Linked DNA regions of Homo sapiens: region 2 is linked to region 1. The links come from fine-mapping of genetic effects on gene expression. Tissue or cell type: whole blood. Region 1 holds a variant in brackets; the other region holds the start of a gene. All regions are shown on one strand. Distances are from middle to middle.

Region 1 (5,965 bases):
AACATGAACCCAAGGGCAACTTATCCCAAGCTCACATGCTTACAGAGTATGCTTGAGAAGTTCTGTCTCTGTAATGAATTAACATGATGTGCTGGGATTTAAAATTTCCATCATGGCCACATAGCATGTTCGTGTACATTTTATAAAGAGGAAGTTTTGTAAGTAGTAAGGCCTACCGGTTTTACCCAGTCTAGGAGAGGACAAGCATAGGCGAATCTAACGTGGCTCTCTGTGCCAACAGGAAGGAGTGGTTTTCTCCCTGTATAAAAGTCAAAATAAGAGTCCAGGGCAGGAGGGGGTGGGGGGTGGGGGGTGGGGGGTGGCGGGCGGGCACAGTGGCTCACGCCTCTAATCCCAGCACTTTGGGAAGCCAAGTGGGGGCAGATTGAGGCCAGGAGTTCAAGACCAGTCTGGCCAACATGGTGAAACCTGGTCTCTACTAAAAATACAAAAATTATCCAGGTGTGGTGGCAGGCGCCTGTAATTCCAGCTACTCAGGAAGCTGAGGGATGAGAATCGCTTGAACCCGGGAGGCGGAGGTTGCAGTGAGCCACGGCATGCCAGCCTGGGTGACAGAGTGAGACTCCGTCTCAAAAAAATAAATAAATAAATAAAAAATGCCCAGGGCAGGAGTCAGAAAACTTTTTCTATAAAGGGCAAGGTAGTAAATCTTTTAGGCTTGGCAGGTCAAACAGTCTTGAATGCACTGTTCTACCACAAAAGCAGCCACAGATAACACATAAACCAACAGGTGTGTCTATGGGCTATGTCCAGTAAACCTTTATTCACAAAAACGGGGGTAGTTTCCCGAGCCCTGGCCTAAAGGACAGAGAGAGAAGAGGGGAAATACACAGTAATGCTGGTGCCCTCACTCCCTGGAGTTAAGAAACAACAAGTAGTCTATTAAAGTCTTACTTCTAAGTGATATCTGAATCACCCATTGTTATGTTATGACAGAAATGACTAATTATTTCTTACTGAACATATTCATCTTGATGGACTTGCAATTATGTACCAGAGATGTTGTGTTAAGAAAGACCCAGGGGCTATATGGTGGGTCCACATGAAAGGGCACTGTGATTGATTAGCAATGTCTGTCTTGGGCAAAATAAGGGAGAAAGATGGCATGAAATGAGTCAAATATCCCACACACTGGTCATGTATGTTCTACATCATCATTACCCATTTTCAATACAAGTTAATTGATGCTAACTCAATTTAAAATGAATTGTTGATCATGCAGGATGCTTTTCAGAAACAGGTGTGAATAATCTTCTGAATACCCTTGACCCAGTGATCTGATTGCCAGCTTCAATTATTTCACCTTAAAAGTCAAGAGCTGGTCAATACACTGAATCTGGAAAGGACTAGGCAAAATTGCCTAACCATTACTATCTTCAAATATGGGCATTGAGCTGGAGGCATAATTCCAGTAACCCCCTTGCAACAATATTTACCTGAGCAGCCTTTATCTGGGCTAAGTCAAGCACTTGGGCAGTCCTACAGGAATGAATTCCTTATCACTGAAGGCTCCAGCAATTACTGTTCTCTGTGTGCAGAGCTAGGATGCAGGGCCACAGCAATTTCCTACAGTGGTCCTCGAAAAAACTGTTGAATTTCATTAATTAGCAATTATCTTCAGCTGAGCACACAAAGTCCTATCTGTGGGCTAAGAGAAGCTGGAAACCCATCCAGCTAAAGTAGAAAAGACAAGATTTAAGGGGCAGTGGATATATATCCGTGGACACCACTCATTTCATTCTAGCCCTCTTAATTCCTAACTTTGAGACTATGAGACTTTGAGGGATTCATTTTCTAATATTCTATTTAGACTTTCACTATCCATGATGGTAGCCAATAACCGTATGTAGCTATTTAAAATTAAACTAAAATTAAATAATATTAAAAATTTAGTTCTTCAGTCATATTCCAGTCCTATTTCAAGCTATATTACTGCACAGTGCAGAGGGAGAATATGTCCATCATCAAAGAAAGTTCTGATTCAGACTAAAGTACCAGGTGCTGCAGTGCTCTGTGCCTATCTCCTGCATATGGCACAGCAGAGGCTGTTCACCACTGACATGCTAACCCTGTGTCTGTATGCTTAGTTTCTGGCTGGGAGGGGACATTCAGCCCACATGCAGGATGGGTCAAGCCAGCAGTGCCAACAAACACCCCTAGAAGCAGGGCTCAGCGAATGGCAGGTGGGAATCAGCAGATGAGCCCCCCAGCGTCCATGTTTCCTGGCTTACAGAGCTCTGAGGCGTGTCCTACAGAGGCTCCCAGAGGTGCCAAATTGCAATGAGTCCCAGCTGCCCACAGCAATCACCTGCTTGCTGAAATTCCCTTAATTGGCTTGACTTGGGTTGCCTTCTTTAGGAACCCACCTAAGACAATGAACTTCACTGGTAGTTCACAAATTGTAAGACAGTCACATTGATGTTGGCACTGAATCTTGGTGTTTGAAAACTAGCCAACTTTACCAGTGAAAAAGATGATCACTTATGGAATCAATATATGAGAGCTCAGAAAAAAATTAAGTCTGTTGCCTTACATTACAGAATTCTTTTTTTTTACTGTGTTGATATACTTCATATACTTTTGTATGCTTCATAGCACTCTTT[AT/T]TTTTTTTACTGTGTTGATATTTCTCAGTTTGATCATTTTATTTAATTACCAAACCCACTTTTGAATTATTTTAGCTATCTCCAAAAATCAAGCCACTCTCCAAGGACAACATTTGACTGCACTGAGAATACTGAAGGGAATACATCCCAGGCTCTGAAAGCTATTCCCACAGTCTGGCTCTCAGGACCTTTGGCCAATAACAAGTCATTAGGATAAACGGACCATACTCACGGAGACAACGACCACCCATTTACATGTTTTGTTTCCTGTGTGACTTTTACAATTTGATTTCTTCATAGTCACACTTGTCTATTTCTCTTTGCTGTCTTTTTTTTTTTTTAACAGCTTTTCTTCTGATATAATGCACCTGTCATACATTTTAACCATTGAAAATGTACAATTCCACCCTTTTTTAGTATACTCACAGGATGCACAACCATGTCTTTTCTTGTCTTCTTTCACCATAAATGGAAACAGGCAGTTTGACCTCACACATTATTCCAGCTTAAGAACCTTATGGCTACATTCAAAAATCAAAGACCAAGTCATGTGTGGTGGAGGACAATTTACTGGCACTGAGGCTAGGCAACAGAATATGCAATCGTTATACTAATGTCGCTCCTTCCCCTCCATTTTTCAGAATTACCGTGTTCAGTCATCAACTCACCTAATCCCCAGGGCAGTAAAATAATCAGTTATACTGCACACACACACACACACTCTCACACACACACACACTCACACACACACACACACACTAGCAAGACTGGACTCACCAGTAACATATTGTTTGCTCAACGAAATACAAATTCCCACACAAAAATGTATTCTTTTAAAAAATTTCGTTTCTCCCTAGTTCTCTGATTATTACTGATACCACAAACCGCTTTGGTGAAACAATTCCCTTCTCTTCCCACACCGCTCTTTGCAACAGGCCAAATCTGTCACTTCCCCCTAAGACTCCTGCATCTGCTGGGGCCACTGAAGCTCCCACCAGAATCTGTTTCTCAGCCCCTAGTTTGAGCACCCTGGTTGTAATGAACAGATGCATTAGGGCAGATAAATATTAAGTCCAGGGGGGAAGATAAAAGGGTACCACTCTTCATAACCAACTGAATGTCTGACCACAACTACTGATGTCAGGGATAAATTTCTTTCCAGGGACACCCACTGTCCCACTACACATCCCCTCACTCCTCAGACAGATGACAGATAAACAGACAGACAGCCACATGGCTTGAAGTGTGAAGGGTTTACAACCACTGCCCCTCTTTAAAGAATCACTCACAGCTTTGAAGGACACTTCCCTGGCCCTCCCAGTTTCTGGCAGGATGATCCCACAACAAAACAGCCCTCTATTAGCCACAAGAACCCAGACACAGCCCCTTTAGCCTGCTAAAGAAAAACCTCAGTTCATCTGACCCTGGGAGGAGACAAAACCAGAAAGCTATTTAGAGCATCCTCCCTAAATTGTCCTGGCTCCCTAGACTTAAGAATTCCAAATTCTCAATGAGGGTGGCTGGTAGCACAGGATAGAGGCAGAGAAGAGAACCCACCAACAGGCAAGAAAAGCCACAGCCTCTGTGTCCTCAGAGTATCCCATGTAGTGCTGGAGTGTTCATGGGACCAAGGTCCTCTTGCCACCTCTCCTATTTTAGGGAGCGCTGGGAACCCCCAAATACCCTTCTGAAACCTCAAGGTGGTTTTCTCCCTGTGGAACTGGGTCTCCTCAGTCCCATTCTGGGTTTCTATTTATTCTTCCCCAGTGCTCAAGACTGAAGGCAGCTCAACAGCAGAAAGAAGTCAGTTGAAGAGAGATGCATTTTTGTCATTCTTGGCATGTGTCAAAGTAATGTTGGAAAAAGAAACCTGGTAAATTTTTAGAGTTGCTGAAAGGCATTGAGTGACTTCACTAAAGACATGTGTTGATATAAAAGAAATAAAAAAAGATGGTGTGCCGGAATCATGCTATACTCCTAAAGACATCAACCCCATGAGGGTGAGGGCTGGCGAGGGGAAACAAGGCAAGGGGGCTCAGGGAGCTGCCTTGCTCCCTGTTGAGGGGGTGGCTGTGTCCCCAGAGAGGCCACAGCGGTGGCCCACTGGCTTCTGTTCCTGCTCAGTGTCCCACTACAATTCAAGCTCCACACAATAATCAGAGTGATATATGGAGACATGAATTCATTAATGTCACTTCATTCTTCCAACCTTCCATGGACTCCCTCTGCTACTTAGAATAAAATCTAAACTCCTTACCATGGCAGACAAGACCTTAGATGGTCCAGCCCTGCAAGACGCTCCAATTCTTCTCCTTCTCTCCCTAATCCCCAGCTGCAATGTCCTTCTGTGTTCCTCAAGCACCTCCGTCTCCCTCCGGCTTGGGTGCCTTTGCAGCGGCTGGTCCCTCTGCCTGGAATGTTCTTCCTTGGCTGGTTATAGGAATGACTCCTTCCCTCAATCAAATTCCTTTTCCCATGGCTCCTGATCCAAAGGACGCCTCCCATCGACCCCCATCACGACCTATTCCTCATTCCCTTTTTCCGTAACACTGATCAAAATCAGATGCTTTCTAATTGTTCTTTGTTTATTCCTTAATTCTGACACCTCCCCCTAGAATGGAAGCTTCATGAGAATCAGGAGCTTGTCTGTGTGGCTCACAGCATGAAAGATGGGGCCTGAGATGGACCAATGCCCAATCAATCCTGAAAGAAGGCATCAATCAGTCAATAAAAAGGGGGCCTGATTTATTTATTCTATTTTTTGCAGGGAAGTAATTTCAAACTTGTAGAAAAATTACAACAATCGTACAAGGAACTCCCATAAACACTTTACCCTGATTCACCTATTGTCAATATTGTACTCATTTTTGTTAGCATTCTGTTTATCTATCTATATCATTTCTATCTCTATCTATTATCTCTCTCTATCATCTATCTATGCATTCATCCAACTATCCTATCTATCCATCTATCAATCATATCTACTCTATCTACCTACCTACCTACCTATCTGTCCACCACTCATCCATCCATCTATCTATACCATTTTTCCTGAACTGTTCTAGAGTAGGTAGCAAGCATCATTGCCCCTCACCCTTAAATACTTCAATGCTTATTTCCCAGGAATAAAGGAATTCCCTAACATGACCACAGCACACTCATCAATTCCAGTAAGTTTATCACTGATACAACTCTTTTATCTAAACTTCTGTCCATTTTCAAACTGTCAATTGACCCGATAATATGCACTAAAGCACTTCTCCCTCCAGTACAGGATCTGATTCAGGTGTGGTTAATTAGCTGTCCCACCTCCCTGGTCTCCTCTAATGTGGAGCTATTC
Region 2 (5,965 bases), 120 kb after region 1:
ACATCTCTATTTTGCTTTGGTAAAAGAACTGTCATTTTAAGAGGAAAGAAGAGAGAAAGGAAGGGAGCAGGAAGGAAGAAAGAATGAAGGAAGGAGAGAGGGAGGAAGGGCCAACAGAAGGAAGGAGGGAGGGAAAGGTCAATATGTGTTAGAAAACGAGCTTCTGAGAAGTTACATTTAACAATCACTGCATGGCTTTCAAGGTGACTAAATGAAAATATTACCTTTGATCATTATGAAGGTACCCCCTATGAGATTATATAAATATTACAAAGCTACACCCAAATGGTGGTTTGAATATGAGGACAGAGTAGGGAACAAAAAACCAGGTTACCTCAGGTTGGTTTTTTCCTCTACTCTTCGAATGCTGTGTGACTTTAAGCTAATCACTCAGCCTCTCTACACCACAAGGTCTTCGAAACAATGCTCCATTCCAAACTTCAGTATCTGTACCAAAGGACCACTAGGTAGTGTGTGCTCCAAGTTTCCAGGGTAAAAGTCACCATTCAAATGCTTACGTGTGCCAAACGACAATTCCCCTTGCAAAATTATCATTTGCAGATTCACACACATTAATTAATATGTTAAAAATTATCTAGAAAAACCTGTGTCTTGCTGCAAAATACTACTGTGCATCACATACCAAAATCATCAATACCTAACGGAAAAAAAAGTGATTGGAGACCATTTCAACTCATATGTCATTCGGGGGCAACACAGGGAGGCTGGCTGGCATCCTCCTTAACATTTGGCTTTTGCCTGTTAGATCTTCAGTTACTGGGGTGTGGAGGGGTCCTAAGACCAACAGAGATGAGAAGGGAGGAAGAGGAAGTGAGAGGAAAAAAGAATATGAAAGGTAGGAAGGAGAAAGGTAGGACAGAGGGAGGGATGCGGAAAAGGCCGTGCTATGGAACTAAATCTGAGTCAGTGGCACCTGAATAGAAATGTCACTACCAGGGAAACCATTCCAAAATGACATTCCAGTCCCCAGGTTTCAAGTTTGCAGAGTGTCTGGCCTCCTCTCCTCCCAAATCCCAGCTTTTCAGGGCCCAGGCAGCCCCCTGTCACTGATTGACTTAACTATATGAGTCACATCCTTCACCCAGAAAAAAATGTCTTTTATATTCTTGAAAGTGGTGGGAACTCTATGTCTCATAGAGCCCCAACATACCAGAAAAAAATGGCCAGCGTGTAATCCACTAGGAATAGCCCTTTCCAAAGGTGGCATGAACTATAAACTGGTTTTTCACTGGAGAAAAATAAAAAAGGAAAATAAAAATGGGATTCGGGAAAACCCCCTTAGTGAGACTGTCAGTAGACAGAAGTCTGGCAGATGTGAATCTGCCCTGGGAGAGATTCTGCTTCCCTCACACCGGCACGGCCCCCTTCCTGATGTCAGAACCCAAGGCTACGGGATCTGAGATCCAGGAGAGCAATGGAGAGAGCCGTGGAGTCTTGAACAGCTTCACTGAAGACCAAGACGGACTCTCTGCTATTACCATAAATGATGAAGTCTGTCAAGCGGTCTGCTAAGACTGAATGAAGACTGACGCCTGTTTCACTTCCCCACCAAGCAGGAGACCAGCCAAGCTGGGGGAGATCCCTTTTTAAATTCATGGCACCTTTGAAAATATTTTACGGTGACTATCAAAATGTCTTTATTCTGCACCTCATGACATCTTGCATTAGAGCTACGTCGACCTCAACACCACAGCACATACTTGTAACTGTTTTTTTGTTTGTTTGTTTTGTTTTGTTTTGTTTCTTTCTCACAACCCTTTACATGGCTGTTTTCCCACTAATCGTGCCACTTCCACGGCCGGGATATAAAACCATTTTACAACAGTTATTCTCCCATGTTTTTCCTTCATTTTATAGACAGCTGAATCCCAGGATCGAAGCTGTTTCAGCAGACAACTGTTGGGAGCACACAAGATCTATTTCAGCTCAAGAAAGGCCAAGGACAAAGACAAGACAAAAGTTGTGGGTTAAAGGGCAGACTTTGCGCAGAGCACCGGTAGAGGAGCGGACAGTGTGATGCGTGGTCCACTGCAAACCATTTCTTCCACAGCAGCAGCTCTGCAAAAGGGACCTCTGAGGAAGAATTCCCTGTCTTCCCAGTGAGTGGTCATTTTAGGAGAACAAGTCCCCTACTAGCCCATAGCTGGAGGGCCAACACTTTTTCTCTCCCTGAAGTTCCCGGCACCTGTTCTGAAAGGGGGTTGAAGAGCTCTCTACTCGGGCCATCCCGCCTGCTCTCTGGATGGAGAACATACGGACAACTGTGTGTTAAGCAGTCCCCTTGAATCCTTCAGCAAGCCAAGGAGTATACAGGTGGTCACCTGCACAGGTGCCGGGTCTACCACCACAACTTTATCCCTGGCCTTGGGGGCTGATGGAGAGTAAGACTCCCCACCACCGCCACCAGCAGTACCTCCAGCTCGCGAGTAAGCAGCGCACAGGCGGGCACAGGTAAATGTTCCCAGGGCGGCCAGACGCCTAAGCCTGCTGGCTGCTGGCGCTCAGGGTCCCCACCTCCATGCCTCTGCGTGGGGCAGGGGGAGTCCTCGTGCCTGGCATCCCACTCCCCCCGCCAACCCAGCCCGCTTATCCTGGGGCTCCGGCCGGGCCGCCCGAAGGAGCCCCGCGCCCAGCCCCGGGAGCCCCGAGCCGCCGGAGCCGCAGCGCCCACTCGGGGCAGGCAGCGTGCACTCACCCTTCTGCTCTCGCAGGCTCGACAGCGACCAGAGCAGCAGCGCCACCGAGGCCAGGAAGCAGAGCTGGCTCAGCAGAAGGTCCCTCCGGCGGCGGCGGCGGCGGCGGCGACGCGCGCGGTCCTCGTCGCCGGACGGCCGCATCCTCGGGCGGCCGGGCGGCGGCCTCGGCGGGCGGCGGCCGCTCCTGTCGCGGGCGGCCGCGGCGGGGACAGCGGCAGGAGGCAGCCCTGCGCGCAGCAGCCGCGCGTCCTCGCTGCGCTCCCACCCGGCCGCCGCCTCCGCCTCCTCTTCCTCCTCCTCGCCGCTGCCCGTCTCCTCGTCGTCGCCCTCCTCGTCGCTATCGCCCAGTCCCTCCTCCCCTCCCTCCTCCTCCTCCTCGCCGCTCGCCCGCGCCGCCGCCTCCCGGCGCTCGGGGTCCCGCTCCTCCTCGCGCGCCATGGCTCCCACGCTCCGCGCCCGCGCTCGGCCTGGGGCGGCGGCGCGGCGGGGGCGGCGGGGGCGGCCGGGAGGCGGGGGCGGAGGGGGCAGAGGAGGAGGAGCGGGGAAGGACCGACGGTAGGAGGGCCCGCCGCTGGCCAACTCCGCCGGTTGGCAAAGCCACCCCGGACTGGCTCTGGCCTCGCCGGCTGCAGGAGCGCCTCGCGGGGCCGCCCGCCTATTCCATGGTCGGCGCGATGGGGGCCGGGGCCGGGCCGGAGCGAACAGGGAGCACCGAGCGAGCTGGGAGCATGAGCTAGCGCAGCTCCCGGCAGCCTGCAGCGGCGAGGCTGGTCGGGCCAGGGTTGGCGGGGGGCAGTGCCTGGGACACAGCCCGGCGCTGGCCGGCATGGCGGGGAGGGGGCGCGCTGGGAGGAGACTGGGCTGGGGAGGGATCCCTGTGTGCAGTCCTTCAACCCTTCTGTGCCAGGGGAAGAGGGACGGCGCAGGGGGCCCCCTCTCGGGAAGCACACACGCTGCCTCCCAGAGGCCGATCTTCACCAAGAAGGATTCGCTGGAAACTTTCGGAAAACCGAGGGGCTCTTCAGCCTCCTCTCTACGTGCTACCTGGAGTCGGGGCGCCGCGAGTGCGCTTGGCTGCCCGCGCCCAGCCTCTGGCCTCGCCTCTTCTCGCGGGCCTCCCGGGTTTCCCTCTGCCCCCTTGCGGGGATCCCCCTGTGCGCCCGACTCGGGATCTGGAACAGGCCTCCCCAGAGGCTGTTAGTTCCATAAGGGTGTCCGGCTCCCCCCTCTGTCTTGGGCTCACACTTCGCTTTCTGTTCGTGCTGGACCAAGTCCAATACTGTGGCTGATCGAAGTGGGGACAGCTGGCACGGTCCCTGGAGAGGCGGCCTGAAGAGGCTTCTGGCCTTGTGCAGGTAACACCAGCCTGCCCTACCTCCAACGTTAGAATCTTAGTCCTCCCATTTCCCCCATTCTAGGTCTCCTGCCCCTCCTTGCTGAAGGTGTGGGCTGCCCTAGAGATGGCTGGACTCACGACCTGCCGCAGGTGCCCATTTGGAGGGGATCCCTGGCCATCCCAGACACAGCCCACTCTCCCTCATTGGGCTTCCCTGGACTCTTCCCAGATGCTAGCCTGGGGCTGCTGGCTGGGCTGAGGAGGAGATGCCATTGTTGGGGCGGAGGGTGGGGGGGCGCTGAAAACAAAAGACCTTGTCCAGAAAGGGATCACCTGAAACCAGGTGTCTGTCTAGGTGACTGTCTCCATGGAATCCATTCAGATCAGGGAATCTAGCTTCATACCCTAAGGAGGTGGGAAGGAAGCAGAGAACCTCTGTATAAGGCTCCCCTGTCTAGGTCTGTTCAAATGTGTCCCCACCTGTGACTGACCTACCCCCCCCGACCTCCTCCCAGACAATCCCTGACAGCGCCCGGGGACAGCAAGGTCACAGCAAAGGGCAAAGGAAGTGGTTATAGGTGGCCTCCTTTCCAGAGAAAGGCCATCTCACCCAGGGAGACCAGAGACTTTTCCTTTGTGGGTATATCATTTATGACTGCTGTTCTCAGCCTGGCATCTTCCAGACACTCAGAGTACCTCCCCCACAATGCCTGAGTGGTTTTCCCTTTGCTTTGGCTGCAGATACTAAGGAGGGTGTAAAAATACGAGTTCATCCGTGCTGGAGTGTGTGGGGAGAATTCTCTAGTTGTGTTATCTCCATCAAGCTTTTGCAGACACAGAAAAGAAAGTTTAGGAGCTGAGAAGAATTCAACTAACCAGGAAAGTCACTCAAATAGTGTTTTCTAGTGAAAACGAGGGAAAATAGAAGGTGAGAGAGGGAATCTGGAATTAATTGAGTTAGGAAATGAACACAAGCTCCAGGGGAAAATACCATAGGCTCAAGGAATTGTGTAATCTGGTGATGGAGGGGGAGTTAGGAAGGGAGCCAGGAGGAAGGAGAATAACCAGGAACTGGTAATTTCTTGGAAATTATCTCAGCACCAGGAGTGTATGTGTGTGTGTGTGGCGGGGTGGGGCGGGGGGGCCGGGGGAGAGCACTCCTGTGGCACACAGAAATGATTCTTGGGTTTCTATTCATTTTGACAGATTTTGGAGTGAAGGGCACTGTTAAAGTAAAGCACAGAGAGTGATTCCTTGGGCGGCCAGGCACCACCTAGGGAAGAAAGGTGGGGATCCTGGTCCCTAGGCTGACAGCAACTGAGACCTGATAGGTTCCTCAGCCCCCCAGGTGATGGCCAAGTGAGACAGGCCTCAGGAGCTCCTCTCCAAAGAAAACAGTCATTTTTTTTCCTACCTGTCCCTTTCAGTCTTTGGAAGCTCCCTCCAGAAACCGAACTGTGAAAGGAGCAAGAGTTGAAATGAAGAATGTGCTCTGATACTTCAGTCTGAGAGTATTTCTTTCCTGGAGAGAGAGGCATCACTCCTAGATGTGTGGGGGTCTTCACCCTTTCAGGAATAAGACAGGTGTCTTTACAGAGCACCTCCCCACCTTGGGCTGGGTTCTGGGGTCACTGTCTACTCCCCCTGTTTTGACCTTCCATAAACATTCTGTTTTCAGGTCCCTGCAGAGACTTTGGACCTGATGTGGTGAATAAAGTTGGTTAGTCTTTCTCACAGTTCTACCTTTAGGACAAAGAATAGAAAGCCTCCCGTGACTATATTCACTAACTCTCAGCCCAGGCCAGATCATCCACCAGCCAGTGAAAGGGACCTCGTCTGTGGCCAAACTAGGTGCAGCTCGGTGCCCTCCTGTGATATTTCCAGCTCTCCAGCCTCCTGCTGACCACAGCTC

Direction of the effects. Positions count from the first base shown, and alleles are read on the strand shown. Sizes are in standard deviations (SD) of each study's normalised expression.
With allele AT in place of T in region 1, the expression in whole blood of the gene that starts at base 3,059 in region 2 is lower (moderate effect, 0.65 SD a copy in GTEx).

The links. PIP is the estimated chance that this variant, and not a neighbour inherited with it, causes the effect.
Region 2: it holds the start of SLC24A3, and the variant in region 1 is fine-mapped to the expression of SLC24A3 in whole blood (GTEx, PIP 0.99).

The regions. Positions count from the first base shown.
Region 1 is chr20:19,331,042-19,337,006 of GRCh38, reverse strand. The region is part of intron 2 of SLC24A3 (solute carrier family 24 member 3); the gene reads right to left. Among named protein-coding and RNA genes, the nearest start is that of SLC24A3-AS1, 49 kb to the right of the region's middle. The variant AT/T (reference allele first, on the strand shown) is at 2,625.
Region 2 is chr20:19,209,736-19,215,700 of GRCh38, reverse strand. It overlaps SLC24A3 (solute carrier family 24 member 3), which reads right to left and starts at 3,059. Exons shown (of 17, transcript NM_020689.4): 1 at 2,717-3,059. The coding sequence starts at 2,858. LOC101929547 (a long non-coding RNA gene) reads left to right here and starts at 3,233. Exons shown (of 3, transcript XR_007067549.1): 1 at 3,233-4,072; 2 at 5,260-5,637; 3 at 5,732-5,965. RefSeq lists a silencer at 2,659-2,708.